Linked DNA regions of Homo sapiens: region 2 is linked to region 1. Evidence: fine-mapped expression QTL. Tissue or cell type: whole blood. Region 1 holds a variant in brackets; the other region holds the start of a gene. All regions are shown on one strand. Distances are between the middles of the regions.

Region 1 (10,533 bases):
GAATTTCTAAATAATTGATGAGTGAAAAAAGTCATCTTTAGAAAAGAATTCCAGCTAAAAGGAATGAAAAGGAATGATAGAATTAGAGCATGACCAGCCGGGCATAATGGCTGAGCCTGTAGTCCCAGCAATTTGGGAGGCTGAGGCAGGCCAATCACTTGAGCCCGGGAGTTTGAGACCTGCCTGGCCAACATGGCAAAACCTCATCTCTATTAAAAATACAAAAAATTAGCCAGGCACCGTGGCATGTGCCTGTAGTTCCAGCTACCCTAGAGGCTGAGGTGGGAGAATCACTTAAGCCCAGAAGGCGGAGGTTGCAGTAAGCTGAGATCACGCCACTGCACTCCAGCCTGGGTGACAGAGTGAGACCCTGTCTCAAAAAATGTAAATAATAATAATAATAGCATTAGAACCTGACTACTTTTGCAAACTCCAAATGAGATAATGGATCTAGGACACAATGATCAATGGCAGCCAATATTACCATAGAAAGAGACATCCCACACTGTGTGCCTCCTAATGGACATTCCCATCACCACCTGTACTAGTTTCTAGGGCTGCTGTAACACAGTGCCACAGACTAGGTGGCTTAAACAACAGAAATTCATTTTCTCCAGTTCTGGAGGCTAAAAGTCCAAGATCAAGGCATCGCCAGGGTGGATTTCTTCTGAGGCCTCTGCCCTTGGCTTACAGACGGTCATCTTCTCCCTGTGTCTTCATGTGGCCTTCCCTTTGTAACTGTCTGTGGCCAGATTTCCTCTTCTGAAAAGGACACCAGTCATATGGGAGTAGGGCCTATCCTAATGACTACATTTTAATCAAATTACCTCTTAAAAAACCTCATCTTCAAATACAGTCACAGTCCAAGGTACTGGGGATAGAACCTCAACATATGAATTTTGCAGGGGTACAATTCAGCCCATAACACCACCCACAAAATAGTCTTGTCAAAAACTAGAATGTGAGGCCAGGTGCGGTGGATCATGCCTGTAATCCCAGCACTTTGGGAGGCTGAGGTGTGCGGATCATGAGGTCAGGAGTTCGAGACCAGCCTGGCCAACATGGTGAAACCCTGTCTCTACTAAAAATACAAAAATTAGCCAGGCATAATGGCGGGCGCTGGTATTCCAGCTGCTCGGGAGACTGAGGTGGGAGAATCACTTGAACTAGGGAGGTGGAGGTTGCAGTGAGCCAAGATTGTGCCACAGCACTCTAGCCTGGGTAACAGAATGAGACTCCGTCAAAACAAACAAACAAATAAACAAAACCAAGAGTGTGAATCAAATCAAGTATTCAGAACTAAATACCAGTTTACAGAGAATATAGAGGGGAGAAAAACATGTTAAACACCACAAAGGGAATGCAATCAGCAAAATTCAGAATTTGGAAAACTCTTGCTGACAATTGACCTTTTTCCATAAAAAGCAAATTGCAAGGACAAAAAAAAAAGGGCCAGGTATGGTGGCTCACACCTGTAATCCCAGCACTTTGGGAGGCCGAGGCGGGTGGATCACTTGAGGCCAGGAATTCGACACCAGCCTGGCCAACATGAAACCCTGTCTCTACTAAAAATACAAAAATTAGCTGGACTTGGTCATGCATGCCTGTAATCCCAGCTACTCTGGAGGCTGAGACAAAAGAATCGCTTGAACCCTGGAGGTGGAGGTTGCAGTGAGCCAAGATGGCACCACTGCACTCCAGCCTAGGTGATGAGGTGAAACTAACAACAACCACAAAAAAAGAAAGAAAAAAGAAAAGAAAAGAAAAGAGAGATCGGAGGGTGCCTGTAGATTGCCAGAGACTTAAGAACTATATAAACCAAATGCTAGATGTGGGCCTTGTATGAATCCCAATTAAAACAAATACCTTTTTTTTTTTTTGACAGAGTTTCACACTTGTTGCCCAGGCTGGAGTACAATGGCGTGATCTCAGCTCACCACAACCTCCTCCTCCCAGGTTCAAGCGATTCTCCTGCCTCAGCCTCCCAAATAGCTGGGATTACAGGCATGTGCCACTACGCCCAGCTAAGTGTTTTTTCTTTTCTTTTCTTTTCTTTTTTTTGAGACAGAGTTTTGCTCTTGTTGCCCAGGCTGGAGTGCAATGGTGCGATCTCGGCTCACTGCAACCTCCGCCTCCCGGGTTCAAGCGATTCTCCTGCCTCAGCCTCCCAAGTAGCTGGGATTACAGGCATGCGCCACCACGCCTGGATAATTCTTTTTTTGTATTTTTAGTAGAGATGGGGTTTCTGCATATTGGTCAGGCTGGTCTCAAACTCCCGACCTCAGGTGATCCGCCTGCCTCGGCCTCCCAAAGTGCTAGGATTACAGGCGTGAGCAACCGCGCCCGGCAAAACAAATACTTTTTAAAAAGATACACTATGAGGCAATTGGGAAATCTGAGCATTAACTGATTCTGGATTGTTTTACAATACTAAGGAATTATTGATATTTTTAGATTGATAATGGCATTGCAGTTATGTTTTTTAAACCAGTCGTCATCTTTTAGAGATATATATTGATACATTTACGTGGATGATTCGATGTCAGGAATATATTTCAAACTAATCCAGTAGGGAAGGAGACAGAGGGAGTATAGGTGAAATAAAAGCAGCAATGAGTTAGTGGTTGTGTCAGGGTGATGGGTACCTCGGGGTCTGTTATACCATTCTCTCTACTTTTATGTTTATGTAAAGTTTTCCATAATAAAATGTTTATAAATGAATTAATGAATAAATGAACAGACAGATAGATGGGTGATTATGTCATGCATCCCTTTGGGCAAAGGCAAAACCACTGAGATGAAAATAGGGAAGACTAATGTACTAAAGGAGCAAAATTAGAAATAAAGCATGGCTAACAAGTAATAGAAGTTACCCTTTGTAGAGAACCAGCGAGGTTCCAGGGCGGGCCCTAGGCAACATTATCCGTCTATATTTATAGTTAAAAATCTCTATTGCATTTCATTTTTATAACATTCCTGGAGCAGGGGAAAAATGGGTCATCCACATTTTACATATAGGGAATCTAAGACTCAGATGCCTAAAACCACAAGCTGGTGAGGACCTGAGATAGACCAGCACCCAGGATTTTGGTCTATAACGTGTATGTCCTTTCCCTTACCCCTTTCTGCATCTAGAGCCCAAAAAAGAATGAAATAGCGGCAGATCCTTGAGTCAAGAGGGAGCCTCAATCTGGAAAAAACCCTTTAGTTTTCTTTGTTTGTTTTAGGAGCTTACTTTGCCTTGTCTTCTATTAGTGCTTGATTTATTTATTTATTTATTTATTCATTTATTTATTTATTTATTTGAGGCAGGGGTCTCATTCTATCACCCAGGTTGGAGTGGAGTAGTCTGATCTCCACTCACTGCAACCTCTGCCTGCCAGGCTCAAGCGATCCTCCCACCTCAGCCTCCCAACTAGTAGCTGGGTCCACAGGTGTGAGCCTTTCGGCTCACTGCAAACTCCACCTCCCAGATTCAAGTGATTCTCGTGCCTCAGCCTCCCGAATAGCTGGGATAACAGGCATGCACCACTGCAACTGGCTAATCTTTTGGGGTATATTTTGTAGAGACCGGGTTTCGCCACGTTGCCCAGGCTCGTCTTGAACTCCTGAGTTCAAGCTATCTGCCCTCCTCAACCTCCCAAAGTCCTGGGATTACAGGTGTGAGCCTCGGCCGGTGCTCTTTATTTTTGAAAGACAAAAAACAAAAACAAAAAACAAACAAAAAACCCCATTTAAGAATGGCCCTCATCCAACAGAAGTGCTTATAGTCACATTTATTCTGCAAGTTTGTTTTTATAGCAATGAATACCAAAGCTTCTCTATCCTCACGATGACAAATTTTGAGTTATGACACTGACGTGAAAATGTGAAGGAAGCACAGAGCGGGAAAATATGTGTGCATCCTTATCTTCCGCTGTGAGTTTCTAGATGCTTCTCTACATAAAATGAAACTACTCAGACATGATTCACATGCACATGGTATCTCAAATAGAATATCAATCATTTTCATTTGGAGAGTATGCTTTGGTTTTGTTTTTCATTTTCACTATGCTCTTTTTAATAATACAGGGAAGTAGCTCCATTTTAGAAAGATTTCCATCAAAACAGATAAAAATGAAAGGTTCAGCCCAGGAAACTCAAGCTCAGCTCTCCTGCAATATTCTACAACCAGGCATTACTCAAACTACTAGAATGTCAGCATTTCTAACCCTCCAGATTTTTATCTTCCTCATGAATATTAGGAAAAGAGTTTGCCCCTTCCAGAATCATCTTGACACTGCCCCTTCAAGCTGCTTATTCTCTGGCCACTCCTCCCTCTGCAAAGGTGGTGTGGACGGGTCTGAGGAGCAGGGCCTCTGATTTCCCTTTATCAATCTGTGTGGAGGGGTACAAAAGAGTTCGGCCAGAAGCAGTGGCTCACTCCTATAATCCCAGCACTTTGGGAGGTCGAGGTGGGTGGCATGCACATGTAGTCCCAGCCACTCAGGAGGCTGAGGTGGGAGGATCCCTTAAGCCCAGGAGTTCTAGGCTGTGGTGAGCTGTGACTGCACCCCTGAAATCCAGCCTGGGCAACAGAGTGAGACCCTGTCTCAGAAAAAAAAAAAAAAAAAAAAAAAAAGATCTGGCATCTCATTCATGAAAAGACTAAAAAGTTCCCTTTAAAGTTATTTCCAAATTGGGTGCAGTGGCTCACGCCTGTAATCCCAACACTTTGGGAGGCCGAGAAGGCAAATCACTTGAGGTCAGGAGTTCAAGACCAGCCTGGCTAATATGATGAAACCCCGTCTCTACTAAAAATATGAAAATTAGCTGGGCATGGTGGCGCACACCTGTAACCCCAGCTACTCCGGAGGCTGAGGCAGGAGAATTGCTTGAACTCAGGAGGTGGAGGTTGCAGTGAGCCAAGATTGCGCCACTGTACTCCAGCCTGGGTGACAGAGTGAGACTCTATCTCAAAAATAATAATAATAATAATAAATTAAAAATAAATAAATGAATAAAAAATAAAGTTATTTCCAAAAGAGGTTATATACAAAGATAGAAAGGCTGACAGAACTGGAAGATGTTGATGTTTAGCTTTAAGGTTGTATCTAATCCCTGAGCTACAGTGTTCAGAGTAAGCAATTTGTACACTGTGTAAATACCCTGCAAATAGCACAGTTTTATTTATTCCTTGTATCTTTTTGTGTTGCAAAGTATTAATTTGCTATATGTAATTTTTTTTTTTTTTTTTTTGAGACAGAGTCTTGCTCTGTCACCAGGCTGGAGTGCAGTGGCGTGATCTCGGCTCACTACAACCTCTGCCTCCCGGATTCAAGCAATTCTCCTGCCTCAGCCTCCTGAGTAGCTGGGACTACAGGCACGCGCCACCATGCCCAGATAATTTTTGTATTTTTAGTAGAGACGGGGTTTCACCATGTTGGCCAGGGTGGTCTCAATCTCTTGACCTTGTGATCCGCCCACCTCGGCCTTCCAAAGTGCTGCGATAACAGGCGTGAGCCACTGAGCCTGGCCTATGTAAATGTTTTTAAAGCATACCACAATATTTTGAAGTCTTATTTTGTAATTTCCTTATTTTTTCTTATAAGTAGCCTCAAAAAATGGAAGTGGCCCTGGCTTCTCTCAATATCTGAAAGGCCTTGAGGAAGATACC[C/G]GAAGATAGCTCAATATCTGAAAGACCTTCCTGAAGAGGAAGAAGAGGGGAAGGTGTTGTGGTTAACAGCTGCAACAACAGTTAGCACACACTGAGCACTTTTCTGTGCCAGGCACTGGTGAGTGTTCTAACTTAACTCACATTTATTAGCACATTTAACATGCAGTAATTCATTAAATCCTCAAGACAACCCTGTTTAGGCAGGAGAATAGGGTCTGGAGGCAGGGAACCTAAGGCCCATTTGAGCTGACTTCCTAGAACTGAATCAAAAGGAAAACTCCACCTTTCTAGTCTCAAGTAACAAAAGGATCAAAGGCTACTCCTTTTGCACTGCCTTGCAGATGAAAAATTGAAAGTACCTCTGACTGGTCCCCTCCTGCAACCAATCAGACTATCAGACTGGTTGCAGGCCTAGTCTTCATTTGCGTAGGGGTGTAACTTTGTAACTTCAATTCAGCTTCTGATTGGTCACCTTCCACAAACAATCAGACTGCTCACAGGCCAGTACTTCATTTACATTGGTGTAAACCAAGTAACCAGTGGGAAACCTCTAGAGGGTATTTAAACCCCAGAAAATTCTGTAACCAGTGCTCTTGAGCTGCTTGCTTATTCCCACTCAGTGGAGTGTACTTTCATTTCAATAAATCTGTGTTTCCATTGCTTCATTCTTTCATTGTTTTGTTTGTGCATTTTGTTCAATTCTTTGTTCAAAACGCCAAGAACCTGGATGACAACTTGTAGTCAAGACCCTCCACTGTTAACACTATGAAGAAGGTATTATCTCCAATTTACAGATAAGGAAACTGGAAACTGAGGCACAGCTAGTAAGTAGCTGTGTATCACATTTTACTGAGAGGTTGTTGGAGGAAGCTAAGGGGAATTGCAGACTATGGGGAAATACTTTAAAACTATATAGAAAGTATAACTTTACAGGGAAAGCACCTGAAAGTTTAAACCTTTCATAAGGGGAGTTTCCTTTTGGGAGCCCTAAGATCTTAACCTTATTTCTTGATCGTCATATTCTTTTATTTATTTATTTATTTATTTATTTATTTTATTTTATTTTATTTTATTTATTTTTTTTTTTTGAGACGGAGTTTCACTCTTGTTGCCTAGGCTGAAGTGCAATGGCGTGATCGCGGCTCACTGCAACCTCCGCCTCCCAGGTTCAAGTGATTCTCCTGCCTCAGCCTCCTGAGTAGCTGGGATTAGAGGCATGCACCACCCACGCCCAGCTAATTTTATATTTTTAGTAGAGACAGGGTTTCTTCATGTTGGTCAGGCTAGTCTCGAACTCCCGACCTCAAGTGATTCACCCGCCTTGGCCTCCAGAAGTGCTGAGATTGCAGGCATGATCCACTGCACCCAGCAATCCTCATATTCTTATATGAGAGCACTGCCTTCCTCTCTGCAAAATTCCACCCTTCTTCACAAGGGATTTTCTTGCCCCATGCCAGCCCTCTTCCTCCACCAGGTGAAATGTGTTCCCCACAGGGGAAAAATATCCAAGTGTGAGTTAGTCTAGAATAACACTGAGAAAATTGGCAGGGGGAATTGTTGGTACTCCAGGTGTCTGGTCCTCTTTGGTGTCTCTCTAACATGGTAGGTGACAGTTAAAGATCTTTATTCTATCATGGCCTGTCAATACTTGTTGAGTCATATTTGCATCTCCCAAATATTAACATTAATTGTCAGAGGCAGTTTCGTCTTAACCAACCCACAAGGATGTCAAGAAAGGTCTTTAAATACTTCATAATTTGCCAACGTATCTTCTTCAACAATGGAGTAGGTGCTATGGACTACTATGGTTAGTTTATTTGATTCACTGTCCTCTTCCCCTCAAATTAGGATTCCCTTGGGCAGACCATCTTCCTCCCCATGACTGCCTGGGACAGGAGGAGAGGTGGTCTTCCAGCTCCACCACAATGTGAATAAGGTCATCTGAGATTTTGGGTTTTTTTAACATACTTCCTCTACACTGTAACTGACCAATAAAAGAAAGACTATGGTTAATATTCTTCCTGGTCACATTCTATCCCAGCACCAAAACTATTTATAGAGAATTCCCTGAGGGCCTGGTTGTTATTAAACCCTGTATAAATACTTTCTTTGAGCCAAGTATCAGGCTCTGGTCCTTACCCAGGTAAGAGGTGAAAAATCTCATGTTAATGTTTTATTGTGGTAAACATTACCTGGGGCTAGCCCCAATGGAAGGAATCAATCCGGCATTATAAACAATTCAAAGGCAATTTTTAGAATGAAAGCAAGCAATTCTCTATGAATCCTTTACAATGCCCAGAATAACAAGTTAAGTGTTCCAAACCACTTTTACACCTACTACATTGCTTCAATCTCACAATAACCCAGAAAGGTCATTAGACTTCACATCATTACCTACATTAAATAGACCAGGAAATTGAGACTGGGAGAGTTTCAGTGATTACACAAGGTTACCCAGCTAATTAATCACACAGCAAAGCTTGCTTTTGACATCCTAGTCCAACTCTTGCCAAAGCATTGATGTTTGCCTTCTTTATATCTATAAAGCATTTTACAATTATTCCCTCTAATGCATAGTTCCATTGACAACTTTTTAAATTCCTTTAATCCCCACAACCACCCTATGGGCAAGTTTTCGGTTTTTTTTTGTTTTTTTTTTTTTGAGAGGGAGTCTCACGCTTGTTGCCCAGGCTGGAGTGCAATGGCACGATCTCGGCTCACTGCAACCTCTGCCTCCCGGGTTCAAGCGATTCTCCTGTCTCAGCCTCCCAAGTAGCTGAGATTACAGGTGCATGCCACCATGCCCGGCTAATTTTAGTATTTTTAGTAGAGATGGGTTTTATCAGATTGGTCAGGCTGGTCTTGAACTCCTGACCTCAGGTGATCCTCCCACCTCGGCCTCCCAAAGTGCTGGGATTACAGGTGTGAGCCACTGTGCCCAGCCAAGTATTCTTATTATCCCCATGTTATAAATTAGGAAAGTTTACAAAGTTATTTACCCACACACCCTTATCTAATCACACTTGGAGTGCCCTTCTGGCCCCTTAGGGTGTTCATTGTTGTGTTAATCAAGATCACAAATTTGAGATCCTGGAATGATCTCTGAAACAGACGTGCTCAAAGGGAAAGGAGCAAAGGTTCTTGATATAAACCAGGAGCCAGTAAAAATTCTGATCATTATTAACATTAGGAATAACTCCTGAGAGTTATCATCAATTAATTTTTAACCAAGTACCAAAATAATTCATTGGAAAAAGAATAGTCTATTCAACAAATGGTGCAGGAACAACTGGTTACCTACATGCAAAAGAATGGAGTTGGGTCCCTACTTCATAGCATATACAAATATTAGTTCAAAATGGATCAAAGAACTGAATGTAAGAACTAAAACTACAAAACTCTTAAAAGAAAAGTAGGGCTGGGTGCAGAGGTTCACGCCTATAATCCTAGTGTGTCCAGAATTGGTGGGTTCTTGGTTTCACTGACTTCGAGAATGAAGCTGCGGGCTCTCACGGTGAGTGTTACAGCTCTTAAGGCAGCACGTCTAGAGTTGTTCGTTCCTCCCGTCCAGAGTTGTTCATTCCTCCCAGTGGGTTCATGGTCTCGCTGGCTTCAGGAGTGAAGCTGTAGACCTTCGTGGTGAGTGTTACAGCTCACAAAGGCAGCACAAACCCAAAAACTGAGCAGCAGCAAGATTTATTGCAAAGAGTGAAAGAACAAAGCTTCCACAGTGTGGAAGGGGACCCTGGCAGGTTGCCACTGCTGGCTTAGGCAGCCTGCTTTTATTCCCTTATCTGGCCCCACCCACATCCTGCTGATTGGTCCATTTTACAGAGAGCTGATTGGTCTGTTTTACAGAGAGCTGATAGGTCAGTTTTACAGAGAGCTGATTGGTCCATTTTGACAGGGTGCTGATTGGTGCATTTACAATCCCTGAGCTAGACACAGAGTGCTGATTGGTGCATTTACAATCCTCTAGCTAGACATAAAAGTTCTCCAAGTCCCCAGTAGATTAGCTAGACATAGAGCACTGATTGGTGCATTTACAAACCTTGAGCTAGACACAGAGTGCTGACTGGTGCATTTACAATTCTCCAGCTAGACATAAATGTTCTCCAAGACCCCACCCAACTCAGGAGCCCAGCTGGCTTCACCTAGTGGATCCCGCGCTGGGGCCACGGGTGGAGCTGCCTGCCAGTCCCGTGCCATGCACCTGCATTCCTCAGCCCTTGGGTTGTCGATGGTACCAGGCGCCATGGAGCAGGGGGCAGTGCCCATCAGGGAGGCTCGGGCCGCACAGGAGCCCACCACAGTGGGGCTCGGGCATGGCGGGCTGCAGGTCCCAAGCCCTGCCCCACGGGGAGGCGGCTGAGGCCCAGCAAGAATTCGAGTGTGGCACAGGTGGGCCGGCAGTGCTGGGGGAACCCGGTGCCCCCTCCGCAGCTGCTGGCCTGGGTGCTAAGCCCCTCACTGCCCAGGGCTGGCTGACCGCTCTGAGTACGGGGCCTGCCAAGCCCACACCCACCTGGAACTTTCACTGGCCCGCAAGCACCACGCGCAGCCCCAGTTCCCGCCCGCGCCTCTCCCTCCACACCTTCCCGCAAGCAGAGGGGGCCGGCTCCAGCCTCGGCCAGCCCAGAGAGGGGCTCCCACAGTGCAGTGGTGGGCTGAAGGGCTCCTCGAGCATGGCTGCCAAGGCCGAGGAGGTGCTGAGAGTGAGTGAGGGCTGCTAACACGTTGTCACCTCTCAATCCCCCCCTGTAAACAGGACAACCCAACTGCTGTTGGGAATTTGGCCAATGACCGCTCTAGCTACTTCCTGCTGGATAGGGGCAAAGAAGGGGCCCTGCAGTTGTAGTGTCCTCCAGAGGGGAACT
Region 2 (10,533 bases), 32 kb after region 1:
CAGCTCACTGCAAGCTCCGCCTCCTGGGTTCATGCCATTCTCCTGCCTCGGCCTTATGGAGTAGCCGGGATTACACGCGCCCGCCAGCACGCCCGGCTAATTTCTTTTGTATTTTTTAGTAGAGACAGGGTTTCACCGTGTTAGCCAGGATGGTCTCGATCTCCTGACCTCGTGATCCGCCTGCCTCGGCCTCCCAAAGTGCTGGGATTACATGTGTGAGCCACCACGCCCGGGCCTAGAGCACAATTCTTTTGATGAACTGATAGAGTTCAGGTTCTGTTGGAGCTTCAGTGTGAACTCTGGACGCATAGGAGCTTTCTGACCTTGTCCAGAAGGACCCTGCCTCAAAAACCAGCCAGCCCATCCTTTCTGACATCCACCCCACTCACCCCTGACTCTGACTTGACCATGCAGGATAAATTCCCACAGTCACAAGTGGCCTCGTTGCTTCACTGATGACACTTTCCTGTGAGTGGCATTTTCAGAGGTCTAGACTCTAGGAACAGTACATCCACTCCAGGCTCGCCTGTTTCAGGAGAGAGAAGACAGAGCATCCCAGGAGGCAGGGAAATGATTCTAAGAGCATTTTTGCCTCTATCTCTCCTCCTGCTGGAGCATGCCCATTCTCACAGAAGGAATGCAAATATGTTAGCCCTTTAGAGCACCTATCAAGCTTTCTGAATAGGCCCACCTGAGAGCCCCACTGACAGCCCTGAAAGGGGACTGAATGTCAGCCAAGAAGAGCCCAACTGTCGGCAGAACAGGAAGGAAGGCATGCCCCGCCATCAGTCTACCTGCTGCAGAATGCCAGCAGCGCCACCGCAGCCTCAGCATCACAGCAGCCTCAGACCACTTAACTCCTTCCTTCTGCATTGCTTCCTTTTCTTTTATGCTGTTCCCTATTATAGTTTTTTCTTTTGTTCTTTCTCTCTTTCTTTCTTTTTTTTTTTTTTTTTGAGACAGAGTCTTACTCTGTTGCTTAGGCTGGAGTGCAATGGCACGATCTTGCCTCACTGCAACGTCTGCCTCCTGGGTTCAAGTGATTCTCTTGCCGCGGTCTCCCGAGTAGCTGGGACTACAGGCATGTGCCACCATGCCCTGCTAATTTTTATATTTTTAGTAGAGACAGGGTTTCACCATGTTGCTCAGGCTGGTCTCGAACTCCTGACCTCAGGCGATCTGCCCGCCTCAGCCTCCCAAAGTGCTGGGATTACAGGCATGAGGCACCGTGCCAGGCCTCCCCTATGATAGTCTTCTCTATTTTGTTCTTCCCAACCCAGCTACTTTTGTGGAATTCCAAGAGCTGAGAAGGACCTGTGTCATCTAGCCCAGGGCATCACAAACCCCAGCAAAATCACTTAGAATGTTTTTTCAAAGTACAATTCCCAGACCCCACCTTACATTTAACAGTTGTAAACAACTCTTGCTTTTGTCTGCCAGGGCATGATTCTCTTCAGAGTTCCTTCAGAGAAGTCTTTCTTCTTTCCCCACTCCATGTGGTTCTACTAGGGCTACAAATTCTGTAAGGCAGGCCTCTCTAGAGGTGATAGGACCCAAGATAGGCATATGGTCCAAACTGGGCCAATCAGAGTTATCTTTTGAGATGTCAGAGTCAGTGGATGAAAGACCAAAGTTCCTCTTCTCCCTTGGATGCCTAATAGAAAATGTGGTTACAGCTGGGTGCAGTGGCTCACGCCTGTAATCCCAGCACTTTGGGAGGCCGAGGCAGGTGGACCACCTGAGGTCAGGAGTTCAAGACCAGCCTGGCCAACATGGTGAAACCCTGTCTCCACTAAAAATACAAAAAAAAAACTGGCCAGGAGCAGTGGCTCACACCTGTAATCCCAGCACTTTGGGAGGCCGAGGCGGGTGGATCACCTGAGGTCAGGAGTTCAAGACCAGCCTGACCAACATGGTGAAACCCTGTCTTTACTAAAGATACAAAAAACTAGCTGGGCTTGGTGGCAGATGCCTGTAATCCCAGCTACTCGGGAGGCTGAGACAGGAGAATTGCTTGAACCCAGGAGGCGGAGGTTGCAGTGAGCCAAGATTGCACCACTTCACTCCAGCCTGGGTGACAGAGCGAGACTCCATCTCAAAAAAAAAAAAAAAGAAAGAAAGAAACCAATATTCTGACCTCTGGAGATGAACAGTCAGGTGTGATCAAAAACAAGACTCGTGAGTCCAAATACTGAAACCAAGGTGCAAATGTTCACCTGCTGTGTCAGTTTGAGTACTACAGGAAACAGAAGCCAAGATGGAATTAGAAGTATAAGATATATTAGGGGAAATGCCTATGAAGGAAAAAGGGAAGCGAGAGCAAGAGCAGGTGGTAAGGGTCTGAGACCACAAGGAAGTTCTGACACCTGTCAAGGAAGAGAAGGAAGGAAGGAAGATTGGGTAGGAAGAGTATCTGATTGCAGCAAGGCTTTGAGGAAATCTGGGCCAAGTCGATGGGAAGCCCAGGTCAATGATTGCCCGGTGAAGGAGTCCAGCACTGGGCAGAAATGGCCTGGCTCCAGCACACCTTTCTCAGTCATTGCTGGGAATAGCCCTACAGAGAGTATGCCGTTGGCATAAATGATCCCAGAGGAAGACAGCAGGAAGCTGTCAGTCAACCACACTCCTTGCAACTGGTTCTCTTGAAAGTAGGTCTGAATGGTGCTTTTCCATGGCTGCCATACCCATGTACCATGAATTAAACTCCCCCAAGGGAACTCTAGGGAGGTGACCGCATGAAATAAGCAGTCAGTGTCCATTGTCTACACTGCTTCTCACAACACACATCATTAACATAACTGAGTATATATGTATATATATATTTTTTTTGAGATGAGTTTCGTATGCGATCTCAGCTCACTGCAACCTCCACCTCCCGGGTTCAAGCGATTCTCCTGCCTCAGCCCCCCGAGTAACTGGGATTACAGGCATGCGCCACCACGCCCAGCTAATTTTGTATTTTTAGTAGAGACAGGGTTTCTTCATATTGGTCAGGCTGGTCTCGAACTCCCGACCTCCGGTGATCCACCCACCTTGGCCTCTCAAAGTGCTGGGATTACAGGCGTGAGCCACCACATCCGGCCTTTTTTTTTTTTTTTTCCTTCAAAACGTGTGTTGGTTTGGCCTTACTAAAAGTGTCAGCTCATTTAGTAAAAAATATATGTTTTCCTGAAGAAGAGTGGGTGGAGCATTTTCTCATTTATTTTTCTACCATGAACATATTTGAATTGCCACAAAGAAGTTACTATGGAAACTGCTCTCGAACTTGCAAGATAAAAGGTAAAAATGGAACACTTTGTTGAAATGCAAATAGTCTCTGGAGATCACTTTTTAACAAAGTCTCCGGGTCTGATTTTTCTGAGTCCTTTAAAGGCTCTCTTGAATTAGAAGCGGACAGGCAGATTTTTTGGCTTTACATTCCAGATGGCTCCAGCTGACTGTGCAAATGTCACAGGTGACAACTCTAGGATGGGTCTAGACGTATGCAAACTTGGTTTTGGAATGAGCAAAGAGGCTGACAGTGCCCTGCTGTGAACACCCAAACAGGCCCAGGGGAGGGAAGGTGGTTGTTTCTGGGCCAGGCCCGTTCTGCAGGTGTACTCTGGACTCACTTGTTTGAAAGTTAACTTGCTGAGCTCTTATTTATGCAAAGTAGTTTCTCTTTCTTATCTCCTCTGGCCACATTCCATCTCTGGGATCTTGAGCTGGATAGTCTTTTCAACAAAAAAACACAAACTTCTTATTTGAAAGCCCTATTCCTCTACCCATCTCTGCTCATCTTTACCTGCCTCTCCCCACCCACCTCTCCAACTCACTTCATATCAGCCCAAGTACTCCTACCATTACAAAGCTCTGAGATAACTTTGGATTTCTGCTTGTTGTAATTTTCTGCCTGTCAATTCCTTCAACCTTGCTTCTTTCTCTTGGGGCCTCAATCCGAAAGCCTTACTGAAACTTTTTTCAAAGCTGCTTTCGGTAATTAAGTGAATGCAACTTGGAGAGGGTTTCCTGTAGTCTCAGCTACTTGAGAGACTGAGGTGGGAGGATTGCTTGAGCCCAGGAGTTTCAGATCAGCTGGGGCAACAGAGTGAGACCTCCAGCTCAAAAAAAAAAAAAAAGAAAAAGAAAAAGAAAATAGAAAAGAGGTGGTTTCACTTGAGGGACCAGGGTCCGAGGTTGTTTATTTGGGATTATTGTTACCTAGCTTCATGACTAGCAACCATCAATTTCACTTCTTTGTGAATTGGAGTCTTTATTTGATCCTTTCGAGGGATCCTTCCATTTCAACCTCCTAAGTAGCTGGCCTCACAAGAGTGTGCCCCAACGCCTGGCTTTTTTTTTTTTTTTTTTTTTTTTTTTAAAGACTGGGCTGGCAGGGGGATCTCACTTTGCTGCCCAGGCTGGTCTCAAACTCCTGGGCTCAAGTGATCCTCCTGCCTTGGCCTCCCAGCCTCCCAAAATGCTGGGATAACAGGCGTGAGCCACTGTGCCTGGCCTGTAATGAACTATTGTAGAACCTAAGATTGGCCTTTTAAGACGTCTTTTCAGGCTTTTGCATTTCTGACAAACGGATGACCCCACCCAGACCAGCCACTCCTCTGCTGGCCCTCCATCAAGAAGCCGATTCAGCAAAGGAGAACCATTTTCCATACTCCTCTGATTGCATCCCTAACCAATCAGCAGCACCCATGCCCTAACCCTCTGCTCACCAAACTATCTTTGAAAAACTCTAGCTTCCAAATGTTCAGGAAGATTGATTTGAGTAATAACTCTGTCTCTCAAGTGGCATGGCCAGCCTCATGTCAAACTCTTCACTGCAATGACTTGGTCGCAGTGAATTGACTTTATCTGTAAAGTGGGCAGAAAGAACCCGCTAAGCAATTACACTATATGCAATTATCTTAAATGTTTCCTTGATTATTATATGTTTCTTCCAATTACGTTTGAATTCCAAGAGAGCTGGGTCTTTAACTATATTCCCCACTTCTGGAACATACAAGATGCTCAATAAATATTTGTAGAATGAAAAGAACTGTAAAATTTCAGCAGATGGATCAAATGAAACTTAAGGTTGCTTGTAGCTTTAACATGAGCATTGATAAAAATGAGTAAGTAGAGAAGGAAGTGATGACAACCATTGCAACAAAGCAATGGAAGCAATGTGCATATTTATCCTTAAAAAACACAAACCTGTCATATGTATGTGTATGTGTGCGTGTATATATAATGTTGGCTTTTTAGTTTCCCGTGGAGTGTGAACTGAGTTTCTGAGGTTTATAGTAAAGCATTTAACAAGGATTTCAGGTAGTTGTCTAAATATAAAACATTGTATCATAGAATTAGAGCGGAAAAGGATTTAGAATACAAGTTCTTCAATTTTACAGGGGTGGAAACTAAGGCCTAGAGATCTAAGTGTACTTGGGCATTGGGAAATAAATACAGCGATGTGTCTGTCGATGAGGAATGCGTATGCCAATCATACTTCTGTATAATCATTACTAATAACATAGTAATACTGCCTTACATTTGAAAAGTGTTTGAGTGTGACTAGACCCTGCACCAGTGGTTCTGAAACTTGAGCGTGATCAGAATCACCTAGAGGATTTGTAAAAGCACAGATCGCTGGGCCCCACCTCCAAAATTTCTGGCTCGGTAGGTCTGGGGCCGGGGACTGGGAAAGCTTAAGAGAAACCATCCCAACTCCTCTCAGCTCTCCCAACTCAACCTCTCAGCTCTCCCAACTCAACCGGCCGAGCTCGGCACTCAGGGAAAACTACAAGTCCCGGCGTGCCCCGCGCGCAGCGGCGGAAAGTCGGACACTTCCGCTCCACGCAGCGCCTGTGCTGCCGCGTCTCGACGTGTCACCGGCGGCGCCGCTGCTGTGGCAAAGGAAGGAGCTGACTGGGGGAGTTCGAGGCGGCGGGCGGCGGTGACCCCGGCCTGGAACTGCCCCGGTACGGAAGTGTTCCGGGGTCCGTGGGGAGCAGGAGAGGGAGGCGGCGGACCGTCCCGCGCGGGGCACGATGTTGAACATGTGGAAGGTGCGCGAGCTGGTGGACAAAGCGTGAGTATCGGGGGGCAGTTGTGGCCGAGGCCCACGTGGGGGAGGGGGGAGGGGGAGAAGGAGCTGGCCTTGGGCTAGGGGTTGCCCACGTCACGCCCCCTGGCTCTGCCAGCCCCATCATGGCGGCGGCCCGCTCCTTCCCGGCCCCGGGCCTCATCCCCGCTGGCGAGGCTGGGGAGGGACCCTCCCTCGTTTTAAAAAAAAACATCCTCTTGGCCACCCTTCTCTCCTTTCCAGGCCTTCCCGTCCCTTCCCCTATTCCAACCCCTGGGTGCCGACGCTTTGGTCATAAGGGGCGGGTTGTTTGGCGCTGGGTCACTGCCCTGGCCGGAGGACTGTCTTGGCCCCAGGCCGTGGGCTTTGCCTCCTGGGGAGCAGGGAAGGTTTGGGGGTGGGGGGCACAATGCACTGGTTCCCTGTGTCCCTCAAGGTGTAGTACGGAGAGACCTTAGACCTGGTTGGGGTGTGTCTTTTATCTTCCTTGCCTCCTCTTAATTCCTAATGAACCTGAAGTGTTGGAGTGGGTGGTAGTAGTGTAACAAGTGGCTATTGTGGTCAGCCTGAAGTTACTCAAGAAGACACTCATCCTTTGCTTTTCTAACACTAGTGAAAGTAGATCACTATATGACTTCTTGCGATTTTTTCTTCTGTTTCTTTTTCCACTACACATCATTTTTGGTGTGCTACTTGTTCCATTCGATTAAATTAAGAGGTCATTAAGAAATGTCCTCTTAAGGAAAAAAACAACCCAGGTTTATATCCTGTTGATCTGCTTTTAAAAGCAGGTAAAACGACCAGTACGTAGTTGATTTCCTTTAAGACTGAAATAACTTTAGTCTCTTACTTGCACAAGGAAAACCTTAACTTTTAAAATGAGTATATCAGGTATAACAGTGGTTAAGTAAGGTCTTCTAGGCCAGCAGGAAATAAAGTTTAAGAATTTAAGCAGTCCTCTTCCTTTGGGGCTTTAATGATTATGCAATAAGTGTGGTGAGAAAAACAGTTGATTTGTGCCACCCACCTAACCTAAAATCAGGAAGTATAGATAGCAAACTGTTTTCTTGACACCAGGAAACAAAGTAATTTCCAGTGCCTTGTCTGATACATCAGATAGAACTTAGAGCTTGACCATATTTTTATATTTTCTGTGCTACCAAGAAGGCAATAGAGTGCCTAAGGAGCACAGGTTTCAGAACCTGCAAAGCTGGGTTCAAGCTTTATAACCTTGGGGAAGTTACTTATCCTCACAGTGCCCTAGTTTTCTCTGGTACAAAATGAAAATGCAACGATACCTACCTTAGAATGTTGTTGTGAGGCTTAAGGGTTAAGGGATTGTATTGCATATAAAGCCCTTAACAGAATATGTTTATATTAGTGTACTTTTGAAACTAGCAAATGTTTTGCATTTAGAGTGAAATAAACCTCTTTAAGAAAGAAGCTTCAAGTTTGAAAAGTGATTTGCTTTAATAATTTTCCTTTATAACAACTCATTTGGCTATTAAGGCTTCAGCTATTTATTTCGGACTATTTAGCTATTTATATATTCTTTGCTTTTGCTTACCGAAGATGAAATAAACTAGATCTTTTCCAGATCTAGGTTCATTGGCATTTTTTTAGTATATTGTGTAAAGATTAGGATATCAACTTAAATAGTTTTTTAAAGGCCAAAAGAAGACTAAAAGCTACCTTTTTTTTTTTTTTTTTTGATGGGGTCTCATTCTTTTGTGTGTTCATAACTCACTGCACCCTCCAACTCCTGGGCTCAAGTGATCCTCCCACCTCAGCCTCCCAAGTGGCCAGGACTACAGGCATGCATCACCGTGCCTGGCACTGCCTCCTTATTTCTCAGTCAGAGGTCAGAAGAATAAAACCATTAAGAAACACCTTGTTCTCTTAGAGGACCAAATTTGTGGTACTCAAAAATTTGAAGAGGCTGTACATTGTTCGTAAGACAGAAATCGAGGCAATATTCCTACTATTGTTGTACCTTTCATATTTGCTTATCACACTTGTTACTAATCTTCACGTGCTTTAGGTTAAATTTGCCATGTAAGTAGTTATCTAAAGGAAAAGCTATTGTTGAAAAATATTATCTATCTTTTTACTACCCAATTTAGGATGTAGACTTGAACCAAATTATTCAAGAACATAGAAGAATGTTGTCACCAAAGACTTTTTAAGGCTTTTGTGGGTGTCTGACACATATTAAGATTAGAACATGAGGTTGATTTACTGATGAGTACTCGGGATTTTAATTTTCATCTTTTCACTGGCAAGAAGAGAAGAAATTCTTCCCCCCAAATGTAAGCATCTTACAGAACCGTGGATCTGTTAGACTGTGCACCTTATAATGCCATAATAGACGTGCATCCATAGAATGGTTGGTCTGATTATCAGAGGTATAAAATGATGAAGGAACTTGCAAATGAAGAAGCAGTGACGTGATTAAGGGCTATTCAGATAGATGGATCAATAGAATGAGGGCTTCTATGAGAGAAAGGTTAGGGGTTTAACTATCTGGTTCATATTCTGGCATTACGTTTTTAATTAGCTGTATGTATGATTTGAGGCAGAATCACATGAATCTCCAGACTTTGCCTTCCTTATCTGTAAAATGAGGGGACCTGGCTAGAGTAAGACTTTTTCCACCTTTGATGGCTATTGGAGAAATGCATTTCCATCAAGGAAAAATAGTTGGAACTAGTTTTTACAATAGCAGACAAATTTTGGAGCCATTATCCTCTGTAGACAATTTAGGCTGAAAAGGGAAATTTTCTTAAAAAGTGGTAATCAATAAATGTTATACTTAAATATTTTATGCAATAAATAAGACCATGACTCAGGAAGACTAGGACTTTTAGTGTATATTGATACCCAGTGAGGTTTTACTTCAGAAAAAGAAATGTACTCTGAAAAATGTGTTTCCTGGAGCCACTCTTAGATTCAGTATGGTAGCGGCTCTTAAGTGTAATGATGTATTTCTTTTTTTTTTTTGAGATGGGGTTTCGCTCTTGTTCCCGGGGCTGAAGTGCAGTGGCGAGATCTCAGCTCACTGCAGCTTACACTTCTGGGGTTCAAGCGAGTCTCCTGCCTCAGCCTCCCTAGTAGCTGGAATTACAGGTGCCTGCCACCACACCCAGCTAATCTGTGTATTTTTAGTAGACACGGGGTTTCGCCATGTTGGCCAGGCTGGTCTTGAACTCCTGACCTCAGGTGATCCACCCATCTCAGCTACTCAAAGTGATAATGATGTATTTCAAACACTGGCTTTTGAGACCTTGAAGACTTTTTCTGGAAGTGGGGGTATATTTTCCACAATCGCTGCACCTCCTGGTGGCAGTAGAGGGATTTGTTTTGCAGAACATTGTGGAACTGAGGGAAGCAGATAAAGCCATAGGCCTGCCAGAGCTTGGAATGCCAGTATCTTCCCACTCGTCAAGTTGCATAAAAGGCGATGTGGCAGGAAAGGATAAGTGGCACCATTCCCACCAACTAGGAGCACTAGCTTAATCATTGTCATCCTATGACCTATCTTTACTTGTGGCTGTAATAAAATTGGACATGTTTATATTTTGTCATCCTATACATGGTAAAATTGAAAGTTGCTGCAGTTCTATTTTCTCTCTAGATTTGAGGAATGTAATGAAGGTGACATGGTAGTGGTAGATCAAAACTGCTACTTATTTGTTCAAGCTCAGCGAATCCTTCTCTTTCCTTGCAAGGAGTAATATTAGTGGTAAATCTCTTTCATCAGTGACCCGCCCCCCCCCCCGCCTTTTTTTTTTTTCGGAGACAGTTCACTTTATCCCCCAGGCTGAAGTGCAATGGCGTGATTTCAGCCCACTGCAATCTCTACCTCCCGGGTTCAAATGATTCTCCTGCCTCAGCCTCCCGAGTAGCTGGGATTACAGGCGTCTACCTCCATGCCTGGCTAATTTTTGTATTTTTCATACAGCTGAGGTTTTGCTGTGTTGGCCAGGCTGGTCTCAAACTTGTGACCTCAGGTGATCCACCCACCTCGGCCTCCCAAAGTGCTGGGATTACAGGCATGAGCCACCTTGCCCAGCCTCAGTGGCCCTTTTTTTGATAGTGATTCAAACAGCTCTGGCTAAGGTCCTAAGGCAACAGCTATGGGTAGTCCATTTTAAGTTATTCTCCTAAGCATAGCTTGCATTTTCCCTCATAAGTTGATTTTTATTGATGTATATTTGCTTGGTTTTAGTTCCTAAATGTTTAGATAATGTAATAGAGCTGTAGAAACTGCTGTTCTAGTCTCCTGACTCCAGAGGGAGAAACTTTTGCTTTTATAAAGAATAGTATATTCATTTATTTTAACAGGCAATACATTTGTTATTTATTGGATTAGTAGTCTGGTTTCTTTTTATTTTTTATTTTTGAGACAGGGTCACACTCAGTTGTCCAGGCTGGAGCACAGTGATGCAAACATGCACACTGCAGCTGGGACCACA

What was found.
Region 2: CLINT1 starts here. The variant in region 1 is fine-mapped to the expression of CLINT1 in whole blood (TOPMed, PIP above 0.99).

What each region holds. Positions count from the first base shown.
Region 1 is chr5:157,886,566-157,897,098 of GRCh38, reverse strand. No RefSeq gene overlaps it. Among named protein-coding and RNA genes, the nearest start is that of CLINT1, 33 kb to the right of the region's middle. The variant C/G (reference allele first, on the strand shown) is at 5,657.
Region 2 is chr5:157,854,461-157,864,993 of GRCh38, reverse strand. It overlaps CLINT1 (clathrin interactor 1), which reads left to right and starts at 5,849. Exons shown (of 12, transcript NM_014666.4): 1 at 5,849-6,064. The coding sequence starts at 6,024. RefSeq lists enhancers at 5,561-5,800, 5,638-6,219.